Linked DNA regions of Homo sapiens: regions 1, 2 and 3 are each linked to region 4. The links come from fine-mapping of genetic effects on gene expression. A gene starts in region 4. Each other region holds a variant in brackets. All regions are shown on one strand. Distances are between the middles of the regions.

Region 1 (7,974 bases), 360 kb before region 4:
AAACACTTCAGCAGTGAAGCCAGCTGCTCCCATTGGTGGGTCATTTTTGCTGTTACCAGCAATGTTGCCATTACAAAAATCTTTGACAGATGCGTTCTTAACACTGAAGCCCACATTTTCCCCAGGAAGAGCTTGCAACATGGTGCATTTCAACAGACTTTAGTTGTAACGTTGACTGGAGCAAAGGTGACCACCATGCTGGGTTTGAGAACACCAGTTTCCACTTAGCACATAGGGACCAATGCCACCAACTTTGTAGACATCTGGAGGGGCAGATGCAAGGGCTTGTCGGTTGGATGAGTTGGTGGTAGGACACAGTCCAGACCTTCAAGCAGCATGGTTCCATTGGCATTGCCATCTTCATGGGTGACTTTACATCCCTTGAACCAAGGCATGTTACTACTTGGCTCTAGCATATTGTCACCATTCCAACTGGAAATTGGTACAGCTGCTGCTGTGCTGGGGTTGTAGCCAATTTTCTTAATGTAAGAGCTGACTTTCTTAATGATTTTCTCATGTCTCTTCTGGCTGTAGAGGGGCTCTGTGGAATCCATTTTGTTAACACCAACAATTGGTTGTTTCATCCCCAGTGTGTAAGCACGAAGGGCATGTTCATGGGTCTGCCCATGGAGATATCGGCTTCAGATTCACCAACACCAACAGCAACAATCAGGATAGCACAGTCAGACTGAGATGTGCCTGTAATCATGTTTCTGATAAAGTCTCTGTCCTGAGCATCAATGACTCATGCAGTACTTGCTGGTCTCAAACTTCCACAGGGTGATGTGTCACACTCACACTCATCTTACCATTTATTCAAGACCCAAGCATACCTGAAAGAGCTCTTTCCCTTCTTAGCAGCCTCCTTCTCAAATTCATCGATGGTTCTTTGGTGATTTATATCATGTTTGTCGATCAGTTGGCAAGTAGCAGTGGACTTACCTGAATCTACGTGTCCAATAACGACGATATTGATATGAATCCTTTTCTTTCCCATTTTGGTTTTGATTTAGGGGTGGTTTTCATGACACCTGTGTTTTGGTGGCAAACCCGTTGTGAAAATGCCTTTTTTTTTCCAACATGAAACACCCATCTTTCTGTTCTGCATTTTTCCATTTAGTCCTTTCTATCTTTACAATTTTAAAACTTGGTAATTATAAAAGGTTATAAAGATGCAATATTTTCCAGGCACACTTTATGAAGAAAAGATCCTGAGGTGAAAGAATTGGCAATCCTGAGTTTCGGGCCTCTTTGGAGAGCCTGCACAGCAGTGGCATGACAGCACCTCCTGGTGGTAGGATTTGTGAAACGTTTACGGCGAACGTAGAAGCAAGGATTGAATTTGGTTGCCTGGAGAAATCATGAGTTCCACTCCTGCTGCAGCCTCACCCCTCACAAACCACCACATAGCCACACTCAGGCCCTTCTTCTCTCCCTTCAAACTCTCTGGTTCTGGCAGTCTTTGAGAGTCTGGCAAAAAAGCCTGTGTTCACGTTCAGTTTGATCACTGTGTCCAACTCCCCAAACCCAGGGAGAGAGGGGTCCTCAGTTTTTCATGGACCTGGCAGTGAAGCAAGGAGAGCAGAAGCAGTTTAGATGCACTTAACTGACATTTTAAAGCATCCAATTATTATGCAGGTATTTCCACCTGAGCTGTAGTAATCCCATCAAAGTGGGAGCAGAAAGGCACGAATTTCACAGAACTCTCTTCTCAGCTGAAGACAGAAACCAGGGGGCCTGAATACGAATGCTTTGCTGGCGCGCTCTGTCTGGTGAATTCAGATGCCACCTCCTCTGGGAGAAGCTCCACAATGCTTCTGCCCTCAGCCTGGGTTTGGTTTCCTTCTGTGCTCCCCAGCGCTCTGTGTTTCCGCCCCTGTTGTACAGAGCCCCTGGACCCTGCGCTGCCATCACCTGTCCATTTGTTTGTCCTCTCTTCAGGACGATAAACTTCCAAGGGCAAAGACCATGTGCCACTGTCTCTGTCCCCAGTTCCAGCACAGGCAGTGCTTCATAAATAGCAGCAGCTCTCATTTCCTGGGTCCTCTAGTGCCAGGCTCTGGGCTAGCTGCTTTCCATCATCTTTCCTAATGCTCCAAGGAGATGCTACTTTATTTGAACAGTGCTTGGCATAGAGTAACCTTCAGTAAACACTCACTGAATGAATGAACATATACCCATTTTACAGATTAAGAAGGTGAGGCTAGTAAATGGAAGTGCCTGGGTTTGAACTTAGGTCTGTCTGACTCCAAATCCAGTGCTCTGACCCATTACACAAATGCCCTTTGTTGGAGTAGTTATTTCCTTAGCATATTTGAAATGATTTATTTATGACATTTGATTTATACATCTATAATAGTATGTGAATCAAGGGTTACTTATATCACAATAAAGAGGTTTTTTTTGAGCCTTATTTATGCCTGGTTGAAATTAAGTCACAGAATCATTATAAAAGCATAACATTTTTAAAGTTTTAATGCATAAAAATAAATTCCATTTACCATAATACTTTATATTCATAAAAATGAATAATAAGGCTGAATCAAGCAAGTATGTGGTAGGAACTGTGCTGAGTGCTTTATGTACCTTGTGTTATTTACTCTTACCTGAACCTGTGAGGTGGATGTTGCTGTTACTCCCATTCATTTCACAGATGAAGCCTGAGAGATAAATGGTATATGGCAGAGGTGTGGCTAGACCCTAAGTCAGCCAAGGGCAAAACTGGCTCCTAACATTTGTGAACTGTTTCTGGTTCATGAAAGCTAAGATTACATGGTGCAAATCCAATCTCATCCTATTAAGGTGGCTTTCAGCTCTTGGGAATATGTTTACAAGCAGCTTATGATGTTCTTTGCTAATAAGTAATTTCTGAAGTGCAAATCCAGATGGTCTTAGCTGAATGTCAAGGCAGAACATTTAACTGTGTTCAGTTCAGTGTCTCGGTGTCTGAACCACAGATGTGAGGGTGCTCTCCTTGCCCTTGACTCTTTCTAAGGAGGTAAAGAGTTGCAGCCTGGCCCAGGAGTGCCATGCATAGCCCCGTCCCTCCCTGACTACTGACCACTCCTGGCTCATCCTCTGCTTCCCCTCCTATGGCTGTCCCCACACCCTGTGCAGGCTGCTTTCCTTTCAGCAGCTCAGGGTCAAGGGAGGGATGGCCAATTGTCTCAGGGAGGAAGACCTTGGATGGGAGGAGGTTCTACTTCAAAGGAAACCAAGAGGGTATATTTCAAAATGCCCAGGTTTCTTTTTCCTTCTAGGGTGTTCTTTAATATGGTTCTCAGGACAGAATGAGTTAACTACTTTTGCTCCCTCCCTTAATATTATCACCAAAAAACATTTCTGAGGAAAACAGTGCTAAATGCTATGGCATTGCAGAGCCCTGGATTTTGTGCACTAAGTTCGAAATCTCAGAGTCCACCTTGATTACCTTCCTCTTTTCTCCTCACACCTAAACCTGATGACTCCATCTCAAACATTCTCTGAAATTTGTCTTTTTTGAGCCCCAATTCTGCTGCCTGGGTGATGTTCATCATCTTATCTGGATTATGATGCCAGCTTTTATCTCTCTTTAGTTCCTGAATCCTCCTATTCACTTTCCACATCACTAGAACCATCATGCCTCTAAAAGTCCAAAGTAGCCATGCCATGTCTTGCTTGAAGTCCCCTGCTGTGCCCTGATGTCCTGAAGGTCTGGCTGCCTCTCAGTCTCACCACATCGTGTGGCGGCCCCTTCTGCAAATCTCTCCTCATTCACACTGAGCTTCTGCCACACAGTGCTCTGAGGTTCCCTGAGCATGTCAGCCTTTTCATGCCTGAAATGTGCTTCTCCTTCCTCACTGGAAGGCAAACTTCTGCTCATCCTCCAAAATCAGCCCATGTCACCTTCTCGAAGAAGTTTCCCCC[C/T]GCACTCCTTCTCCATCTCACACTTTCTGCATTATGAGGATCTGTTCCATGTGTTCACCCTAACCCATATGCTGATAGGAAAGGAACCATGTCTATTCGTTTTTTGTTCCATGTTTGAGATAGGCTTCAGCACAAAATAAGATACTGACTACATATATATATGTGTGTGTGTATATATATGTACACATATATAAAAGTAGATATGTGCATATGTAGATATATAAATGTGTGTGTGTGTATATATATATATTTTTGTTTTGTTTTGTTTTGTTTTGTTTTTTGTTTGAGACAGGGTCTGGCTCTGTTGCCCAGGCTAGAATGCAGTGGCATGATTATGGCTTACTGCAGCCTTGACCTCCTGGGCCCAAACGATCCTCCCACATCAGGCACCTGGAGTAGCTGGGACTGCAGGCATGCACAACCATGCCCAGCTAATTTTTTAATTTTTTTTTTTTGTAGAGGGGCGCTGGAGCAGGGAGTTCTCCCTATGTTGCCCAAGCTGGTCTTGAACTCCTGGGCTCAAGCAATCCTTCCACCTCAGCATCCCAAAGTGCTGAGATTACAGGCATGAGCCAACACTCCCAGCTAATTAAAAAAAAAAATCCTTTTACTAATTACTAGCCATGGAGCCCTGGGAAAATTAACCTTCTTGAGCTTCATTTTTCTCCTTCAGGGATAAAAATTCTTCTCAGATTTATGAGGAAGATTAGGTGAGATAATGCACATAAAAACACTTAGCACTTACTCACTGGGAAGAAAAAGAAGGAAAAGGAGGAAGAGGAGAGAAAGAAAAAAGAGAAGGAAAAGAAGAAAAAGAGGGGAGGGAAGAGGAAGAAGAACAAGAACAAGAAGAAGAAGCAGTTGCTACCATGGCTGCCCTTTGGTAATAAGGGACAAATGACAACTGTCTTGAGTTTTCTTGTTTTTGGCTCATACAAGTGACTGATCCTTTCTACTCTCTGAGCAGCTGTGTATGAGTGTTAGGTTTGCAGCTATAACAACAGTTACTATATGCTTATGTGGATAAGAAGAGTCCACACACCCTTTTTAACTATCAGATACCAGTATAGTACTGTATAGTAAAAGGAGTAGGAGGTAGAATCCCATGAGTTTTGCCAACAGGGAATCTAGGCAAAAAGCAGACAATATGAGTCAATATAAACTGTGTTCTAGAAAAAGCACTGTGACTTGGAGTGAGAAAACTTGGATTTGAGCTTCTGCCACTAAGAAACTGTATTCCTCTTGGCAAGCCACTTGTCCTCTCTGGGCCTTGGCTGTCCTGCCTCTGAAGGAGAGTTAAACAATCTCATAAACTTTTTGTGAGGATCAAATGAAACAATATAGGTGACAGCACTTTGTTAACTGAAAACACCAAGCAATAGAAGTTTCAATTATTGCCATAAGAAATTCAAGGTGAACTTCTGCAGTTAGAGGGAAGATTTGGAGCTGGCAGTAGTAGATAACATCAAAAAGGAATGTGAGCTCTTGTCTCAGAAGGGAGGAAACAGGATTTGAGGAGACAACAGAATGCTGCTGAAGGTTTGCCAGATGGCAAAGAGGGTGCAGTGAAACCTGGGCCCATCCCCTGAATGCCCTTCCTGTAACCATCATGGCATATTTTATACCTTGCACAAAGAGCAGTCTTACATCTTACAAGGGATTAAATTAAAACATAAGTAGTCAAAATCATTCTTAAATAGCCTATAAATCATCTGGAAACTGTGATATATACGGTTTTGTAATACATCCCTGTACAGTAATTTTTTATCACATTATAGTTTGAAGCAGCTGTACAGATGTCTCGGTGTTCAAATCATTCTCCCTTCAGGTAATTATCAAAGCTGTACAGTGAACAGGAGATAAATAGAGAATTCTGAAATGTTCCCGCTTGCCTGCAAGGTTTACCCTATTCTGTTTTTATTATCAAATCTTTATAATCTGGTACCTGTTCTTGATGCTGGTTAGTTGCTGTTGTGAGGGGTAGATAAAATAACATATTTGAAAGCATCTATTACAGAGCAATACACAATAAATGGCTGCAATGAGAATGAAAACTTGCTTCTCCAGAAGTACTAATATGAAGAACTTCCAAAAGTCGTTTCCTGTCCTTCCCTCAGTTTGGCATTTCGTGTGGTGACCCACAGGCCAGCTGTCACTCCTGATCTTGGGCATTGATCCCATCCCATCCCAAGTAGGGCGTGCGTGTGTGAGGGGAGGGTGTTAGTTCCTGCAGTCAGAACATGTGAGGCCATTGTATGGCTTTGGAGTGTTTTTTGGCATCTGTTTTGTTTTCTTTCTCCCTCCTTTGTTTTGGACATAGATTTATTTCAATTGACTTTAAATTCCTAGGGTAGTATTATTCACATAACAGAAAAAATAGAAAAATATGTTTACTGTGGCACTGATGTTGCTGGAATTAATAGAGGGCTCCTTGAAGAAAGACATAATCTGTAGCTTCACACACACACCCCTAGGTGGAGAGAGTGAGCTGTCAGGGGAAGAGCCTCAATGGGGGCGGGTTGTGGGGGCTCAGCCTGCTGGGATCTGAGTTTGATGCTCAAGCAAGCCAACCCCATGGTAGTGTAGCCCCAACAGTCCTCTCTGCATGATAAGAGGGCTTTTCACACAGTAAACTAAATGTATTTGGAAACCGCTGCACAAGGTATGAGGATGTTAGAGACCTTGTATTGCTTAACTATGAGAAAGATGGGGATATTTCATGTGGGACGTCTGTGAACAAACCAAGACCATGTATCACAGAGAACTAGGCCCCTTCACTTCCCCAGCCTGAAGCCTGTTCTTAAGATTCTTTAGGATCTCACAGTAAATGAATACGTAGAGGTTTGAGTTAATATATTGGTGTTCTACAGATTTTTTTTAGGCACAAATCCATTCTTCATGTGCAGAAAGACCCTATAGTTATATTTCCTGACTCTGTGGGATGTGCCAGTCACTGTCAGGCAGAGGGGCTGAGACGGTGAACAAAACAAAAATGCTCCAAGCCCCCTTGGAGGTTAAAGTCTAGTGCAGCTTTGCCTAACAGATCCATTTACCATGATGGAAATGTTCTAGATCTGTGCTATTCAATACAGTAGCTACAAACCCTATATGGCTACTGGGTACTTGAAATATGGCTAGTGTGATTAAGGAACTGAATTTTTAACTTTATTTCTATAAATGAATTTGAGTTTAAATAGCTCCATATGGCTGCTGGCTACTGGACTGAACAGTGCCGTCCTGGTCAGTGCAGGACAGGAGGATGTGTACTATGAAAGGCTAAGACTTGAAGTCAGAAGTCCTGAGTTTGAGCCCTGGCACTGTCCTCAACTAACAATGTGACTTTGAAGCTAGTTAAGCTTATTAAGCCTGCCTTGGCACAGAGTAATTACCTCTTGAGGTTACTATGAAGATTAAATTATAAATTTGTGGGATAAAGGTCTTTACAATCTACAAAGTACCATGAAAACATGAAATGTTATTTTAATGAGTCTATTAACATTAACATGAGAAACCTACAATGATTTCAATGTCATTTTCTGTACATTTGCACTTAAATGATTGTTTAATTATAGGCAATTTGGGGTATTAATGAAAGCCCTTGGGCCCAGTTAGTGGTTAATTATTCTTGTTTTCTATTATGAGATTTGTAATGAAAACTATTACTCTGTTTATTAATATTATTAGTTGCCTTGTGTTGCTGCTAATAAATATTTGGGTGCAAGTGATGACACAACAAATCTCTTCCTTCCCTCAGGCCAAAGGAGGCATCCGTCCTCTTTTAGTTATTTCTCCTGGGGTCTGTCAAAGGAGCAATTAGAGGTGAGAGCCTATGCAACTTTGCTGTATTCCACAACTCCATCTCTGCCTCAAAGGAGCACCGAGCCTGAGGCTTGCATAAGGATGAAGACATGGCATTGTGTGCAGTCTCCCCTTGGGCAATTTATCTGCCCATGCCCCTTGTGGTGACAGGTGGGCATTGCAGGGTGTGGCCTTACCCGTCGTGGAAGGGGTAGCCCCATGTACTATTGGCCATGAGGCATTTAGGACCCTTGTTGATTGAAATGGCTG
Region 2 (7,974 bases), 230 kb before region 4:
CTTACACCCTCCTTAAGTTCTGTTTATAGCCTACGCTCCTGGTTTGTAATATTCTAGGCCTTTCAATTTGGCTGGAAACTCCCTCAGGGGTTGTACTAAAACAGCTCATTCTTACCTGACAACATTAAAACAATAAAAATTACTGTAGAATCTGAATCACTTGAATAGTACACGTGGCCTCTGAGTGTCAATTTACCATAGTGACCAAATTTACAAATACATTCCTACATAAAGGAAATCTCATGCACTGAAATCTCAGACAATTGATAGAATGCTACCTTTACCACAGTATGAGTTTCTTGTATGTGTGTGAGATCTTTTTCATTGTTTTCTCTGATGCTTACCCATGGTGAGAACAGGTATGGGATTTGATGCAACTTTTCAGAAAAGCCATTTGGTGATCTGTGTCTACAATATATAAAGCCTACACATCCTTTAGCCAAGTATTTTTACTTGTAGAAATTTATTTTAAGAAAATCATCAAGGATGTTCACAATAGTTCAGTTTCCAGTAATAATTATGGGAGTATTGTTTGTAACACCAGGAAAAATGGCAAGAGCCTAAATCTCTGATAACAAGGAATTGGTTTGATAAATGTAGTCAGTGGCTGTTAAATCAGGGTAAATGTATGAACCGCACAACATTACATGAAAGAGAAAGTTTCGAAAATATAGAAAAGAAGGGTTCTATGTCTTTCTCTACTAGGTATATGTATATTATAAATACCCTTTAAATATATTACTGAAAAGGAATTTCAATCAGATTCAATGTGATTTTTGTCTTGATTCATTTCGCTTATCTATACTTTCTGAAATTTCTACCATAAGCACATATTACTTTTAGAAATAAAACAAAAATGAGATGAGAAGAAAGATTCAGTCCTAAAATAATTCAGGGAGGAGCCCGCAGTCTTTAAGGGAAACTCCCCAGGTATGTAAGAAAACCATTGTTCTTGTGCTTGGACAGAGGAGTCATCCTACAGTAAATACAGGGGAATAATTATGCCTGCAATTAGGTGAAGGGATGGGCCAGGTGAGGCTGGCAGTAACCATAGGCTAAAAATATAATGGGGAGCCTATAATTTCAATTGCATGTTTGGGAAATGTTAAGTGCACAGTTTCTTCTTAGACAAGCCACCAAGTAAGATTTTTACAAATATCAACCATGTATCTGTTTTCTGTATTTTAAAACGAAATGGCATACCTTTACTTTGAACATTGGCTTTTTATCAGGGCTTTGTGTACTACAGCTTGGATTTTCCTTATTTTAATTTTCTCTGCTCACTGCAACCTCTGCCTCCTGAGTTCAAGCGAGTCTCCTGTCTCAGCCTCCCAAGTGGCTGGGATTACAGGCTTATGCCACCATGCCTGGCTAATTTTTGTATTTTTAGTAGAGACAGGGTTTCACCATGTTGGCCAGGCTGGTTTCGAACTCCTGACGTCGTGATCCTCCCACCTCAGCCTCCCAACGTGCTGGGATTACAGGTGTGAGCCACCCTACCTGGCCCTCCTTCTCTTAACATTAAATAGTTTGTGTATGCAAGTCCTGGCAAATTTAGACACATATTTTAATTATTGTAGTTAAATAAGTCTACTAGGTTTTTCTGGAGCTAGATTTCATGTTACTTCCTAGAATCAATTATTTGCTCTCATTTCTCTCTCTCTCTTTTTCTCTCTTTCTCTCTCTCTCTTTCTCACACACACACACACACACACAAACACACACACACACACACTTTCCTAATATACAGCAATTAAAAAGAACAAACTACTGCTGCATGAGACAACGTGGATGAATCTTGTAAATAATGAGAATCAAGGCCAGGCGCTGTGGCTCAGGCCTGTAATCCCAGCACTTCGGGAGGCCAAGACAGGCGGATCACCTGAAGTCAGGAGTTCAAGACAAGCCTGGCCAACATAGCGAAACCCTATCTCAACTAAAAATACAAAAATTAGCTGGGCATGGTGGTGCATGTCTATAATCTCAGCTACTGGGAAGGCTGAAACAGGAGAATCGCTTGTACCCAGGAGGTCGAGGTTATAGTGAGCCAAGATGGCACCACTGCAGTCCAGCCTGGGTAACAGAGCGAGAATCTGTCTTAAATAAATAAATAAATAGAATTAAAACAATCTCTCCTCCCTCCCTGCCCCCCAATTCTGGATGTAATCTCAGCTAATGTAGCTAACTCCTTGAGACAGAGACAGTAGATCTCTTATGAACATTTCACACACAGATTTTCGTATAGGAGCAATAATAGTTTCCCAAGAGGTGCCATTTCAAGTACCTGTGATCAGTCATTGCAGCCTGCAACTAGAAAGCTCTGTGTCAAGCATTACACTAGCTACTAATCCTCACCACACCCCTCTTTGTTACATGTGTACAGATATCCTTGATTCGTGTGCAAGACTAAGGGCCAATTGAAATGGCCACTACTGTCTCAGATGATAGATGATATCCATATAATAAACTGTCATATATTCAATACATGAAAGAATCCCACAAATATTAAGAACCCAAACCATCTACTCCCTCCTCCACCAAGACTCACATAACTTGGGCAAGGAGAATCAAAACCATAAACTGCTCCACAGCTTACTGTTAACATTCTCATGATTTTATTATTCCATACTCTTCTTGAGCACAGTTTTACTATTCCAGGAGACTCTTTCCTAAGCAAATAACTTTATTATTTATTATTGGGATCTCTGAAAGATCCACCATCTCCTCAATAGAAAACATCAACAGTTTATATCTCAAGAGCCTTTGAACCACCAACTCAAAGTCCTGCCTTGCTGTTTCCCCCAGTCTTAAACAATCGTATCATAATCTTTACTGAAGGCTTCCTGTCTTTGGGTTTCTTTTTTTTTTTTTTTTTTAACACCATGACCAAATAGTATTTATTTCAGGTATCAAAGTCTGGTGCAACATTTGAAAATTGAGTAATGTAATCCATCACACCAACAGGGTATAGAGGAAAAATCACAGGATTATATCACTAGATATAGAAAAAGTATTTGACAAAATTCAACACTCATTAATGATAAAAACTCCCAGCAAGCTGGAAATAGAGGAGAACTTCCTCAACTTGATGAAGAACATCTATGAAAAAGTAGCTAACGTAATACTTAAAGGTGAGGAACTAGAAACTTTCCCACTAAGACTGTGTACAAAGCAAAGTTATCTCCTCTCACCATTCCTTTTCTTTTTGTTTTCGTTTCTTCTTTTTTAAGTTTTTTCATTATTTTTTTTATTTTTTATTTTTTATTTTTTT[T/G]TTATACTTTTAAGTTCTGGGGTACATGTGGGGTACAATGTTCTGGGAACAAAGAGGGGTATGGTAGGAATTAGTAGCAAGTGGAATGTTTGACACAGAGCCTTCTAGTTGTAGGCTACAACTAGTGAACATAGATATCTTGAAAAAGCACCTCTTACAGAAATGTAGTGCTGTTTCTATACAAAAACCTATGTGTGATTCCTTTGAATTCATTGACATGAAAAATAAATAAATAAATAAATAAAAATAAAACACAAAACTTGTGTGTGAAATGTTTCAATGGGGTAGAATAATATCCATCATTCTATTGATGGACATTTGAGTTGCTTTCAGGGATCTTAGCTGTTTTCAGGGATCTTAGGAAATATGCTGCTGTGGTCATTTTTGTACATGTCTTTTGGTGCATTCGGTGCGTATGAGAACACATTGATTTTTGTTTGTTTGTTTGTTTGTTTGTTGTCAAGGAATCAAACTGCTAGTGGAGCTTCTTTTGTTTTGTGTTAGTTAGCATCCCAAGGTTCCCAGAGTTTTCCTCTAGCCTAGCACTCTCAAGGTTTGGCTCATCTCTTCCTGCCTGGGGGACTTCCAGTCACTCACTGATTCAGTATTTATGGATTGTTCATTGCATGTCATGCACTGCACAAGGTGCTGAGGACACAGCTGTGAACAAGATTTTCCAGGCTCTGTGAGAGCAGAGACCTTGACTGTGTTGCTCACTATTGCATTGCCAACTTCTAAAATAGTGCCTGGCATATAGTAGGTGCTCAGTAATCCGGGGTCAGCAAACTATGGCCCACGGGACAAATCTGGTCTGCTGCCTGCTTTGTCAATGGAATTTTATGGGAATACAGCAACACTGTTTTGTTTACATGTTGTGTATGGTTGCTTTTCCCCTATAATGGCAGAGCTGAACAGTTGACAGAGACTACATGTCACACAAAGCCTGAAATATTTATTCTGTGGTCTTTTGCGGGAAAAGTTTGTTTCTAATGTAGCTGGCTATTTGCCTAGATAAAAATGGATACTTCTATTACAATGGAAAAGGAGATAAATTTTTGTTAATTTTATACTTATGATAGAAGTTTTCCAATATATTTTTTAAAATAAAGAAGTAAAGAGGGGAGAAACTGAGCCTGATTTACCCACCACCCAGCTAGAAGAACATATGAGTTTCCTAGGGCTGCCAAAACAAAGTCCGACAAACTGGTAGGTAGCTTAGAAAAACAGAAATATATTGTCTCATGTTTCTGGAGGCCAGAAGTCTGAAATCGTGTCAGCAGGCTCATGCTCCCTCTGAAGGCACTGGGAAAGGATCAGTTACAGACCTCTCTCCTAGCTCCGGGAAACGTCAGACATTCCTTGGCTTGTAGATGGTCATCTTCTCCCTGTGTCTCCTCACATTGTCATCCCTCATGTCTGCCTCTCTGTCCAAATTTCTTCCTTTTTATAAGGACACCAGTCATGTTGGATTAAGGCTCACTCTAATGACTTCGTTTTAACTTGATTACCTCTGTGAAGCCTGTATTTCCAAAAAAGGTCGCACTCTAAAGTGTATGGACCTCAACATGTCTTTTTTAAGAAGACACAACTCAACTCATAACAGAGAAAGAGATAGCAGTCTCTGAGACCTCAGTAGCATCTTCTGAACTAAACATGTCTTATGAGACGCCCTTGAAAAAATCTGGGAAATAATATATACCAAATAAATCTTCCCAAAGATTCACTACACACATGGACCTTCCACTAGCTCTGAAAAGTCTTGTTGTAAAAACCTATTTAACTCAAAACATCTGAATTATTTAACTATGAGACCGTGGGGCTACAGCTTTGGAAAGAGAATGAATAGCAGATGTAAAAAAAAGCACAGAGCTGGAAACATAGCAAACACTCATTAAATGATAATAGGTGGAGTTCAGAAGAGTACTTCAACGACAACCAAAAGCTTAGGATGACAGAAGAGAATTCATTACATTATTAGCTGCTGCCTGTTCAGTGGATGGGAACACGGATATGCTTTGTCCGTGTCTTCTGCACTCAAACAGGTCTGCAGGGCTTCTACCCTGTTGTTCTTGCTCCAATTCTCTAGGAAAATACTATGTGTCCTTTAAACAAATCAGCTACCTGGGTTTGTAAGGGGAGTCCTGATTTCCAATGTCACAACTTTGGAGAAAAAAAGTCCTATCGTAGCTGACTTGTAATAGTCTTCTCTAAGTGGGAGAGACAATAGAATTTCAGAGATAGAAATACCGCTCAATATTTCTTAATCCCAGTAATGCTTATCATAGGGTATCCTTGTACATAAGTGTGGGCAATAGTATATTTCACCTACAATCCCCTGCAGAGGTTGAAAAGAGACTTCCATGTACATTTGCCTACGCCTCCTTTTATGCATGGGAGTAGAGGCATGGGCGGCAAGGACATGCTGTGGATGAGGGGCACATAAAGCTTAAGGTTGGAAAAAGACAGAAATGAAATGACATATTAGTAAATAGTTTCTGCAAAGGCAAGCTAGGTGATTCAGTCTTCAGTGTCCCTGGCCAGAGCATCAAGGTGCCCTGTGAGTCAGGCAACCTGAAAGCAATTGGGTGGTTTTTTGTGTTTTTTTTTTTTTTTTTTTTTTTTTTGGCCCAAAGAAGCATCACATTGCAGGTCATCGTGAGTCTCATTTTGCAGAGTGAGAGAAATATCCACATCCACTTTGTCAGGGCTTCTTATGCATGTGAGGGCATCAGGGTTTCATGGTTGTAGAGCCATGCCAGGTGGGAGAACTGGGCTCAGGTACAGAGAAAAAGAATAAGGAGGGCTGCAGAGGCTCCCTGGGCCCTCCTTAACCACCACCCTTTCCATGTTTCCCCATCTTCCACTCTTCCATTGGCAACACTCAGAAACAGGTTTGAAGGTACAGCAAACTAAGCAGTTCCCATAGACCAGAAGTAGGCATTTTTTTCTCCCATTTGGCTTTGTGAATATTAATTTTTTTTCTTTGGAAATTAGTCTCTCTTTAATGTCACAGAGAATTAAATGACAACTGTGTTCTTAATGTCACAGGGAATTAAATAACAACTGTGAAGTACATAGAAAGTAGCTTTAAGTAGCTGAGCAACCATATGATTTGAATAACTGAAGAAACAGGGTGCTGGGCTTCACTCAAGAATCTTTTGTTTGGGTCGTGGTTGCTCATCTTGGACAAGTCACTTTTTCTCTCTGAGCCTCAGTTTCCTAATCTGTAAAATAGAGATTATAATATTATCTCTACCTGAATACCAAGATTGGGATGGTTCAATTAGATCCCATATGAAAATTCATCATAAACTATAAAGTTATGTGTCAGATATGATTACTTTGGCCACAAAAAATTAGAACTGTAGTTCTATTATACAATTGCCTCCTTAGTTCTTGCCCCATTTTCCCCTTCCTCACAGGACTTTGGGATTCTTCTTCCCAGCTTTATTGAAGTATAACTGAATAAATAAAAATTTTATATATTCAAGATGTAGAATGTGATGATTTGATATACATATACATTGTGAATTGATTACCACAATTAAGTTAACACATCCATCACTCCGCATAGTTACCATTTCTGTGTGTGTGTGTGTGTGTGTGTATGCGTGCAGTGAGAACACTTACAATCTACCCTCTTAGCAAATTTCAAGTATACAATACAGTATTATAAACTATAAGCACCATGCTGTACATTAAATCCTCAGAATTTACTTATCTTATATCAGAAAGTCTGTATCTTTTGCCAACATCTCCTGATTTTCCCCACCATCAGACCCCTGACAACCATCATTCTATCCTCTGCTTCTATAAGTTCAACTTCTTAAGATTTTACATATAAGTGAGATCCTGCAGTATTTTTTTCTTTCTATATCTGGCTTATTTCACTTAGCACAATGTCCTGCAAGTTCACCCATGTTGTTGAAAGTTGAAGAATTTACTTATTTTTTTATGACTTAAATATTTCACATATATATTTTCTTTATTCATCTGTCAATGGACACTTAATACTGAAATTAACATGGAAGTATAGATATCTCATCAAGGTACTGATTTCATTTCCTTTGAATGTATTAAACCCAGAATTGAGATTGCTAGATTATATATTAGTTCTAGTTTTATTTTTTTGAGGAAGCTTCATACTGTTTTCTATAATGGCTGTACTCATGTTAAAGGCATTCCCACCAACAGTGCGCAAGGGTTCCCTTTTCTCCACACCCTTGACAATGTTTGTTATCTCTTGTCTTTTTCATAATAGTCATCCTAACAGGTGTGAGGTGATATGGCATTGTGGTCTTGATTTGCATTTTCCTGATGATTAGTGATGCTGAGCACCTTTTCATAAACCTGTTGGCCACTTGTTTGTCTTCTTTGGAAAAATGTCTATTTGGGTTTGTTTGTTTGTTTGTTTGTTTGTTGCTATTAAGTTCCCTATATATTGTGGACATTAACCACTTATCAGATATATGATTTGCAAATATTTTCTCCCATTTCATAGGTTGCCTTCTCATTTTGTCAATTGTTTCCTTTGCTGTGCAGAAGCTTTTTAGTTTGATGCAATCCCAGCAAGTCATTTTATGGGTGTCAAGACTGATTTTAAAGTTTATATGGAAAGGCAAAAGATCCACAGTAGCCAACATGATGTTGCAGGAGAAGAGCAGCATTACAGCACTGACACTGTCTGATCTGACTTCAAGACT
Region 3 (5,000 bases), 25 kb before region 4:
TGGACATATTAAACCCTAAAAGTAAACAAAATGGTTATTCACCATTCTGACAAGGGCTTAGCTGTAGGGCTTTTTTCCCACCATCTATGAGCCAGTTTAATACATACATGATTATAAATAATACCTTGTTAAACAGCTCTAATCATTACAGAGGTCCAAATAATACTGTAATACTAATAATACTGTAAACTTAGCAACAATTTGATCTCAGTAAGACTAGTGAACATGTTAATATTTGAAATAAACTTCAAAAAATTGTGATTTAATTCTTTCTCAAATTTAGACTGAGTATTCTTCCCTTATTTTAGTTTTGATTGGTAAGTTTAGGCTCTACTACATCTATTTCCATAACTCATAGAGGGCTCATAAAAATTATCACTAGCTAATCTGACTCAATCAATATATTCAGACTCTAGCGGTCAAATCACCTAAACGAAGACTTTCAATTAAGCAAGACTGAAAAGACAGGGCACAGCTAATATAATAATTGGCATTAAATTATTGGCAGGGACAAATCAGGCAACACCTTGACCTGATGACCAAAAATTAACATCACCAAAGAGGGGTAGATGAACAGCATGTGCCTCCAGATGTGATACCCTTAACACAAAAATCACCTATGCAATATTCTGGCTGAAAATGCATAATCTGAATCTAACCATTAAAAAAAAAAAAGCAAACCCTAAATAAGGAATACTCTCAAAAAAAAAGTAGAGGGGAAAATTATATTTTTCAAAAATGCTCATGTCATAAAACATAATGAAAGGCTATAGAAATATTCCAGCTTCAAAGGAGGCTAAAGAGACATCATAGTTAAACACACTACCTGATCCTAGACTGGGTCTTGAACTGGAGAAGGGGAAATGCTATCAAGCCATTGGGTCAGTTGACAAAATTAGACTATGAACCATAAACCAGATAAAGCACTGTGTCAATGTTAAATTTATTAAAGCATACTACTGTATTCTGGTATGCAAGAGAGTATCCTTATTCTTAGAAAATATACGCTGAAGTACTTAGGGGCAAAAGACTGATGTATGCAGTTTACCTCCCGAAGAAGAATCAGAAAACAGTGTATGTATATCTGTGTGCACAGAAAGCACAGAGTGCATAAAAGAGAGAGAGAAGCAAATAGGGTAAAATGTTGACTGTGGAGAAATCTGTGTGGGGAATGGGAATATATAGAATATTCTTCTTTTTTAAAAAAGAGTCAAAAGAGTCAGGGTCTTGCTGTGTCACCCAAGCTGGAGTGCAGTGGTACGACCATAGCTCATTGTGGCCTTGAACTCCTGGGCTCAAGTGATCTTCCCATCTTAGCTTCCAAAGTAGCTAGGACTACAGGTATGTGCCACCACAACTGGCTAATTTTTTAATTTTTTGTACAGATGGGATCTCACTATGTTACCCAGGCTAGTCTCGAACTCCTGGCCTCAAGCAACTCACCTGCCTCAGCCTCCCAAAGGGTTGGGAAGAATATACTTATTCTTGCAACTTTTCTGTAAGTTTGAAATTGTTTCAAAATAAAGAGTTAAAATAATTGCCAGGGATGAGTAGGAAGCTGTCACTCTTAGATCAGTAAGGATGCTCCCTCTGGGTCCCTCCCCCCAGGACAATGCTGCAGTAGCTGTGGTGCCCTGGGACAATGTGCTAACATTTCTAAATAAGAAGAGTGGGACAGGGATACATAATCCTAGATTTATTTATTTATTTATTTATTTGCTCCATTTCTTAGCTATCTTTGCTAGAGTTCAAATTAAGGTCAAAGACTATGTTCAGATTGGCCAATCGATCTTCTTAGGAGAGTGGGTATGAATAAGGGAGTCTTATGCTAGTGAAGGGAATTTCTACTGGTTCCTCGGATGTCAGAAGCTGTAACAATGAGGAGGCAGAGAGAGATATACATTCCACTGTCAGACAGAGCCAGGAAGCTGAATGGCTGTGGCATCCTGAATGTATGATAATTAGAATCAATTTCTGATCATTAATTTCACTCTAAATATCTACAAACAAGAATCAGAAGTTTGAAAAGAGTACCATCTCTTTGTACAGCTGCACTGGTGAGATCGTATTCACAATATACAAATTCCACCCAGCCTCAGCTACAGGAGGTATTTTGATTTTAACACTGGTATCTTTTCTCGAACTAAAAGCAAAACAAAGGACAAGAATTTTAAAATGACATTATTAATAAATGGTAGTTGTAAATGGTAAATATTGGATATAAAATAACTATAAAATCATTTTCATTTACTATTTTCCTCAGTGATTAACTGTACACTCTATTTCTATGGAATATTAGTTCACAATACTACATAGGCTAACTGCATTTAATATTCTGTAATTTTCATGTAATGATAAACCAACTGCTTCCAATTCACTCTGCAAGTATTCTCAAATGAGCAGTAAGTTCAAAGAACAGGCAAGTCCCATCAAGAGGAAAAGATCCTTGACTGCGGAAGTCCCTATACCCAGGCTCTTTTCTGCATTTGACTTTCATGAGTCTAGCATGCCCTGAGCCACAAATCTAAGCAGAAGCAACATCATGGCTGCTGAGAATATGATGAAGACACATAAAACTGTTAAGTCTGCTTAAAGCACTATCTTATCTCTTGCTTTCACTATGTGATACATTTTCTTTAGTGTACAATCTTTTA[T/A]AATTGTTTATCAAATGAATTTTCAAATGAATTAGAATTTTTAAAACATCATTTAAAAAATTATACTATTAGAATGTCAAATGTGCAAGACTACAAACTGCTTTTCCTCTCCCCAGAAAGCTTTTAGGATCAGTCAGCCCCAGACCACTCTGTGTACACTCAAAGTGATCAGTTACCAAAGTCAACCTCTGATTCCTGTTGATGCAACAAAGCACAGCCACTAACAATTTGAAAAAGTAAAAATCTATGTTAAAAATAACCCATGTTTGATATGAAATACACTATATGCTTCACTCCCTGAAGAGATTTCTTTCTTGATTAAATTTTCCTTAGAGAAATTAGATTGCATTCTCTACCACTAAGTAGGAAAACATCAAATAGAAGCATAACTAGTCTGGAATTAAGCATTCTATTCTAAACAATGGGAAAGCAGAAACCTAATAAATAACAAGAGATGAATGTTATCAAAATACAACTTTATTTTCAGATACATGAGCACATATCTATAGATCATAAATGTGCTTTAAGGTAAGACATACATTATTAATTTCTTTCATAATATCAGAAAATAATTTTAGATAAAAATGTAACAACTGAAAGGGTCAAAGAAGAAAGACAGTAAAAAGTCCTGTAGTTTCAATTAGCATTATAGGCTCAGTCTTTCTCATTAATTACACAGAAAAGCATGGCCTTTAACTAATCTAAAACACCTTTGATTTTTACTGAAACTATTTTATAATCCATTTTCTCCTAAAAGTTTCCAGGTCAGTTATAAAGTGTATTACAGAGATTGTTAGAACCTTCTTTTCTTTCTCTGGAAAAAGACCACCATAAAAAAGCCATTTGATCATTCCAAGTTATGATTTGAAAAAAGATAAACACAAAATATACCAGTTACAACTCATTCCAGAAACTGGCAGGAATGCCTGGGGCAAGGGGATGCTTACAGAAGCCTCTTGGGTGACTGTCTTCTCTCTGGAATGGCTTCAGGTTCTGCTTTAGTCAAAAGTATGATGTGGTTTTTAAAGTGACAGATGGCTTTCAAGCCTATGAAAAGCTGTATTCTTAAAGCACAGACATCCATACTGACAGGTGGGCAAGCCTAGTAAAGGAAAATCACATATTTAAGCAAGAAATAAAGGTACATGCACTTCAATCTTCAAAAATCAGTCAGTTTATTTGATCAAATCTCTTCTGCTGCCACCATCCCATACCCACCACCACCAAAAAACAAACAAACAAACAAAAGACCAACCCAGATTCCTATTCTTAACAGAAGAGGTTATCTAAACCTATGTAACCAATAGTGTATTCCATAGAGCTACTCAGCCAACAAACTCAGTTATTGATTGATTGAATAAATACGGAAAGAGGGTCCCACAGCTGCAGGAACTTGTGTGTGTGCCCCACAGAGTGGCTCCACAGATACCTCCAGGAGATGAAGCTGGTACTCTGCCACCCAGGGAAACCCCCACAACTAGCAGGATGGTTGGGGGTACGCCCAAATGGGGTTTTTAGGAAAAACCAGACACTATGAAAGGACATTCTACTGCTTGTAGAGTACATAAAATGGTTTCTTTGCGGATGTGTGTGTGAAAGAAATGCTTGTATGTTCCGATGGCCCCTGACTGTTAGTCTGTTAGGTACGAATAGTGCCTGGAATGGCGGACAGGCTGGGACATGTCAGGTAAACTAGAGGAGCCAGCCTTTTGCTCTTGTAAAGGACCATTAATTCAAGTAGAATGAATAAGAAAACTAATGGAAGAGCTCTATTCTGGGAGCTCACAAAATGATGCTGCCAGGACCCTGCCTTCTTGTCCATGCATGCTGTTTTGATTCTGAGGTCATCTTCATTGTTACCTCCATGTAAAAATAGTTAAGGTGGCTTGGTTAGTGCTGAGGAGTCAGAATCTCAGAGGAAAAGGAGACAGACCACAAGCACTTTCAACCAGACTCTTGAGGTTGTGAAACTTTTTTCAGACATCACAGCTCCAAAGCCTGAGTCAGCAGGTGGGCTAAACGTGTGCTTGTTTAACTGGCACCTAGGGCTTCAGAACTGGTGGAGTCCCAGGAAAGGAGGAACCGTGAGGTGTGATTATGCCTTCCCCCTCCTACCTCCACTGGCCTCAAGGGCAGCATACCTCCACCAGATGCCCACCTCTCCTTATCCCTCCCCTTTGTCTCTTCCTTGTTCCTTCATTCTGCCTTTTATAAGACTCTGAAAATACATGGAATTATTTTTTTTCCAAAGGTACATTGATCCTACTTCAATCTATTAGGTACTTTAAATTACACCATCACCCCTATATAAGCCTATGTCTTTCTGAGGTTTGAAAACGCAAGGAG
Region 4 (5,534 bases):
CCATGGGCTGCGGAATGGATGCTGTGTTAGCAGGCATAAAAACAACATCAATCTCCTTCTACATCTCCATCAGAGGTCTTGAGGGACTAGGTGCATTGTCAATGTGCAGTAATCTTTTGAAAAGAATATTGTTTTCTGAGCAGTAGATCAAAACAGTGGGCTTAAAATATTCAGTAAACAATGTTGTAACAGCTGTGCTGTCACCCAGGCTTTTTTCATTCTAAAGCACAGGCAGAGTAGATTTAGCATAATTTTTAAAAGGGCCCTATGATTTTCAGAATGGTAAATGAGAACTGGCCTCAATTTAGTCACCAGCTGCATCACCCCCTAACAAGAGTCAGCCTGTTCTTTGAAGCCAGGCATTATCTTCTCCTCTCTAGCCAAGAAAGTCCTAGATGGCATCTTCTTCCAATTTAAGACTGTTTTGTCTACACTGAAAAAATCTGTTGTTTAGCACAGCTGCCTCCATAAACTCATCTTAGCTATATCTTCTGGACTTCTGGATAACTTGCTGCAGATTCTACATCATCACTTGCTGTTTCACCTTGCACTTTTATATTATGGAGACAGCTTCTTCCCTTAAACCTCATGAGCTGAACTCTGCTAGCTTTAAACTTTTATTCTGCTGCTTCCTCACCTCTCTCAGCATTCACAGAGTTGAACAGAGGGCCTTGCTCTGTATTAAGCCTGGGCTTAAGGGAGTATTTTGGCTGGCTTGATCTTCTACCTAGAGCAAAGTTTTTTTCCTATCAGCAATAAGGCTTTCTAATCATTTGTGTTCACTGGAGTAACACTTAATTTCAAGAACTTTTCCTTTGCAGTCACAACTTGGCTAAGTGTTTGGTCCAAGAGGCCTACCGTGCAGCCTATCTCAGCTTCTGACACGCCTGCCTTCCTCACTAAGCTTAATCATTTCTAGCTTTTGATTTAAAGTGAGAGACGTCCAAGTGTCACTTGAACATTTAGAAGACATTGTAGGGTTATTAATTGGCCTGATTTCAATATTGTTGTGTCTCAGGGCCTAGGGCAGCCTGAGCAGGCAGAGACGATCAGAGCAGTAATCAGAACATACACAACACATATCAATTAAGTTCACCATCTCACATGGGCACAGTTCATGGCACCCCAAAACTACTACAATAGTAACATCAAAGATTGCTGATCACCGTAATAGATACAATAATTATGATAAAGTTTGAAATATTGCCAAGAACTATCAAAATGTGACTCAAGAGACATGTAGTGAGCACATGCAGTGTGAAAAATGGAACTGGTAGATTTGCTCCACACAGAGTTGCCACAAACTTTCAATTGGGGAGAAAAAAACACGCAGTATCGGCAAAGTACAACAAAGTGAAATGCAAAAAAAACAAGGTATGCCTGTATATGTCTTTACTTGACAAAATAAGCAGTCAGATACTATGTATGGTAACCCCACAGTTTTTAATTGAGCCACGAAATCCCAGGGTCTGGATATCACTGATCTATTTATTCAACTTTTTGTTTTTTTTTTTTTTTTTTAACATAAACTCAGACCCCAAGGTTTCTATAAACTCACACCGAACCAGCTGCGGGGTAGGGATTAGAGAGAGATCTCCAATCTTCCAGGTTCAAGTTCTCCACTTCATTAATAGCATAGCCACCAGCTTTTGCAACGTAAATACTGAACTTTACACCCATCTTGTAAAGTATGAATCGAAGGTAAGTGTATTAAAGGAATTATATGGTAAATTCTTCTGTAATCTAAAAGGGATCTAGTTTTAAATGTTGGATTTTTCTAAAATAGGATTCACCCACACAGTATTTCCTTGGTATTGCTTCACATTTCTGGTGTGAAAGAGTAACGGCTGCTCTTACAACTGTTTGTTTTTGTTTGTTTTGGGACGGAGTCTCACTCTGTCGCCTAAACTGGAGTGCAATGGGGCAATCTCCGCCTCCCCGGTTCAAGCGATTCTCCTGCCTCAGCCTCCCAAGTAGCTGAGACTACAGGCGCCCACCACCACGTCCGGCTAATTTTTGTATTTTTAGTACAGACGGGGTTTCAATAAATTGACCAGGCTGGTCTCGAACTCCTAACATCGTGATCCGCCTGCCTCAGCCTCCCAAAGTGTTGGGATTACAGGCGTGAGCCACTGCGCCCGGCCACAGATGTTTAAGAGAAGAGAGGGGGGCAGTCTGAGTTCTACTTACACACATTTAAAAATCAACACATAATGTGAGCTTTCAAAAACCGACCGGAAGTAGATGGAGGTACAGATGTGAAAGAACTGCCAAGAGTTGGAATAATTGTTAAAGCTGGGAGTACTTGGAGGTTCCGGGATACAGTACTAGTCTCCTTATTCCTACTTGTTTTTTTGGTAAGTCTTTGAAATCTGATGCACTAAAGAGTTTTTTGTTGTTGTTTGCTTAAGTATCCGAGATGAGTGGAATCCAGCCAGAGGCCTTTCTGCAGAAAACCAAGACGAAGAGATGTCAGCGTCTCCGCCCCGACAGAAGCAAGCTCATACCTATGCTTGCCGCGACAACCGCATAGCTCAATGCGACTTCAAGCAATCAGCGGCCAGACCCAGGGAGACCATCCGGCAAATTCCGGGAAGCAAGAAGTCCCATCCCTAGCTAGAGCTACAGCCCAGACGTTCGGTCCGCTAGCTAGGAGGCCTCAAGCTGGACCCCAGGCGGCCCCTGGCTCTCTAGATTACTCACCAGCCTCGCTGTAGGCCAGGCGCAACACCCGGCCCAGCGTGGAGAAGGCGCACCGCGGCTGGCACAGCTCCTGGCCGGCCACCGCGAACGCCTCCACCTTGCAGCCCGCCGCCACGAAAAGCGCGTCACGCCCCCCGCCACAGAACCGGTCCGGCTCCAGCTTGCAGGGCACCACCTGCTGCGACCCGAACGGGTGCAGGTTGTACAGCTGCACCATCCCGACGTCCGGCGGGATGGCACAGCCTGCCCGCCCTGCAGGGCGCCCGGAGACCCCGCGCTGACCGCGAATGTAGGACTACTTCCGCGAGCGAGCCAATGACGCCGGGTCACGTGAACGCCAGCCGGCCCCGCCCGCGGCTCCGCTACTTAAAGAGGCCGCCGCGGGGCGTGGCAGGCGTCGGGAAAGCGGTCACGCCAGCCTGGTCAGCCCGCGCTCTGGCGCTGCAGTGCTTTCGGTCTCTGCGCCTCCCACTCCGCCGCGCGAGCTTGCCACTGCTCTATGCTCAGTGGCCGGTGGGTGCGGGGACCGCTGGGTCCCTGCCTTTCGTCTTTTACTGCTTTGGGCCAGGCGGTATGTTTTGGCTTTTGAGTACGTTCTGACAATTCATCATCTATCTTGTAACATTTTGTACTTACTTTGAGGAGCGTTATTCATGTCTCTTCAGTAGTCCCTGAGCTTCTGGAGGATGGGGTTGCAAAAACTGAAATGGGGTGCAACTCGGGGCTAAACACTCTGAAGAGTTGCTTTAAAATAATGGAAATTCTAGAATAGTTCAGCTGGAAAGAGCAAAGCCTTGAACGTGCTTGGCAAAAAGATATTTGTTGAAAGAAAGAATCCATGGACTTCATCTTGTAGGCATTTGACAAAAGACTAGTTTGAGCCCCAGAGGATAGAAGAACTAGGAGGGAAATCCCCTGGCTTTCAGTCCAGTGCTCCTAAAACTATGCAGTAAATTATCTATTCCTGACATCTCAACGTGGAGTTCACGATCGCAACACTTTCCCTTTTCTAAAAAAATCAGATTTAGATAAAACAAGTAGTATAACTTTGTCCAGTTCACCTAGAAAATATATGTGTTAGCATGGATTGAGGGATGCTGTTTTATTTAGGCACACAGGGACATAAATGAAAGTGCAACATTTTCTTCAGTCAGTTTCCAGTTCAGAATTTGTAAATTAGATGCAATTGGATTGAAGTTAAACTTGCCTCCCTTTCCTAGGCCCTTCAGATGAATAAAGTACCTCTAAGTAATGGGAAACAACAGGTTCGTCAAACTCAGTGAGTTAGAGAAGTAAACATGGAGGTAGCTCAGGTCAGGAACTAGGGCTGCAAAAAATCACAGAAGGCTCCTATGGAAAACAACCAGACTAATAGTCCACAAGTTATTTGTTCTAGATACAAAACTTAAGAGCAAATATCAAAATCAATAGTAAAAAAGATTCCTTTCCACAAGTATCTGCCATATTATTCTTTTTGGCTTAATTTTCTTCTTCAAGACTTAATTATCCTAATTCAATTTTCTCCTAATGAAGACTGATATTAACTTTAGTGTAATTTCACCTGCATAAAAAGAATGTCTGTTTTGGAGAAAGAAGTGAGATTTGCTCAAAACCTGGAACCCCATTCCTTCCTAGAGATAGTGTCTTCTTCCTTGCTGTAGTCACTGCACCTGACTCATCTAAGATTCTTTGGGAAGAGACATGCTACCCAAGGGAAGGTGGGGCATGTGTCTGGTTTCCACGTTTGTCAGGAGCTGTGAGCAGGAGCTGCCCACTTGTATTCCTGTTACGAATGCAGGGGCAGCAATGGCACACCATCAATTCCTTGCGGGAGGTTGCATTTGTTTGCAAGGGCTGCCATAACAAAACACCACAGACTGGGTGGCTTACACAATAGATATTTCATTTTCACAGGTCTGGAGGCTAGAAGTCCAAGATAAGATGTCAGCAGGTATGGTTTCTCCTGAAGCCCCTTCTCCTTGGCTTGAAGATGACTACCTTTTTATTATGTGTTCCTATGGTCTTTCCTCTGTGTGCCTGCATCCCTGGTGTCCTTCCCTTGTCTTATAAAGATACCAGCCATATTAGATTAGGACCCACCCTTATGATCTTATTTAACCTTAATTATTTCTTAAAGGCCCTATCTCTATATACAGTCACATTCTGAGGTATTGGAGGTTACAGATTCAACATATGAATTTGGGGGGAAGACACAATTTAGCCCATAGCACATGCACTTAGGGTAGCACTCTGTTGAAAAGGGTTGTCTTGAGAACTTTCTTCCTTCCTTCCCTCCTTTCTCTCTCTTTCTTTCTTTTCTTTCTTATTTAAAGAGATGGGGTTTCGCTCTGTCACCCAGGCTGGAGTGCAGCAGTGTGATCATGGCTCACTGTACCCTTGACCACCTGAGCTCGAGCAATCCTCCCATCCCAGCCTCCAGATTAGCAGGAACTATAGGCACATACCACCATGCCTGGCTAATTTTTAAAATTTTTGTAGAGATAGGGTCTCACTATATTGCCCAGGCTGATCTTGAACTCCTGGACTCAAGCGATACTCTCACCTCAGCCTCCCAAAGTGCTAGGATTACAGGCATGAGTCACTGCACCTGGCCCTAGAACTTCTTTAAGCTGTATTTGCTGGGGAGATTGAGGGTGCTATGTGGGTAAAAAGCTCCCCCAAGTTTCTTCTAGGTGACAACACCACTGGGGATGGCTACAAAAATGGTTCTGCAACAACATGGACAAAGAGCTCTACTCAACCAGCCTAGAAAAGAAGGATTCTGGATCTCTGGAGCACTGATTTCCTATCCCATCTGTGAGGTACCTCGG

Alleles and levels. Alleles are on the strand shown, and positions count from the first base shown. SD is a standard deviation of normalised expression in the study named. Not every link is listed here.
As copies of G replace T in region 2, the expression in regulatory T cells of the gene that starts at base 3,006 in region 4 goes down (small effect, 0.34 SD a copy in Bossini-Castillo 2019).

The links. PIP is the estimated chance that this variant, and not a neighbour inherited with it, causes the effect. A credible set is the group of variants that fine-mapping cannot tell apart.
Region 1: its variant is the best candidate, but not a certain one, in a credible set for the expression of HPS3 in whole blood (TOPMed, PIP 0.51).
Region 2: its variant is the best candidate, but not a certain one, in a credible set for the expression of HPS3 in regulatory T cells (Bossini-Castillo 2019, PIP 0.64).
Region 3: its variant is the best candidate, but not a certain one, in a credible set for the expression of HPS3 in testis (GTEx, PIP 0.90).

Annotation. Positions count from the first base shown.
Region 1 is chr3:149,487,683-149,495,656 of GRCh38, reverse strand. It overlaps TM4SF4 (transmembrane 4 L six family member 4), which reads right to left. Exons shown (of 5, transcript NM_004617.4): 3 at 7,902-7,974. It also overlaps the pseudogene EEF1A1P45. Among named protein-coding and RNA genes, the nearest start is that of TM4SF4, 17 kb to the right of the region's middle. RefSeq lists silencers at 1,213-1,362, 6,001-6,295, 7,923-7,972. The variant C/T (reference allele first, on the strand shown) is at 3,907.
Region 2 is chr3:149,359,188-149,367,161 of GRCh38, reverse strand. No RefSeq gene overlaps it. Among named protein-coding and RNA genes, the nearest start is that of TM4SF1, 14 kb to the left of the region's middle. The variant T/G (reference allele first, on the strand shown) is at 3,272.
Region 3 is chr3:149,152,250-149,157,249 of GRCh38, reverse strand. It overlaps HPS3 (HPS3 biogenesis of lysosomal organelles complex 2 subunit 1), which reads right to left. Exons shown (of 17, transcript NM_032383.5): 7 at 3,602-3,756; 8 at 2,035-2,143. Among named protein-coding and RNA genes, the nearest start is that of HPS3, 25 kb to the right of the region's middle. The variant T/A (reference allele first, on the strand shown) is at 2,655.
Region 4 is chr3:149,127,110-149,132,643 of GRCh38, reverse strand. HPS3 (HPS3 biogenesis of lysosomal organelles complex 2 subunit 1) reads right to left here and starts at 3,006. Exons shown (of 17, transcript NM_032383.5): 1 at 2,704-3,006. The coding sequence starts at 2,920. RefSeq lists enhancers at 2,465-2,964, 2,746-3,005.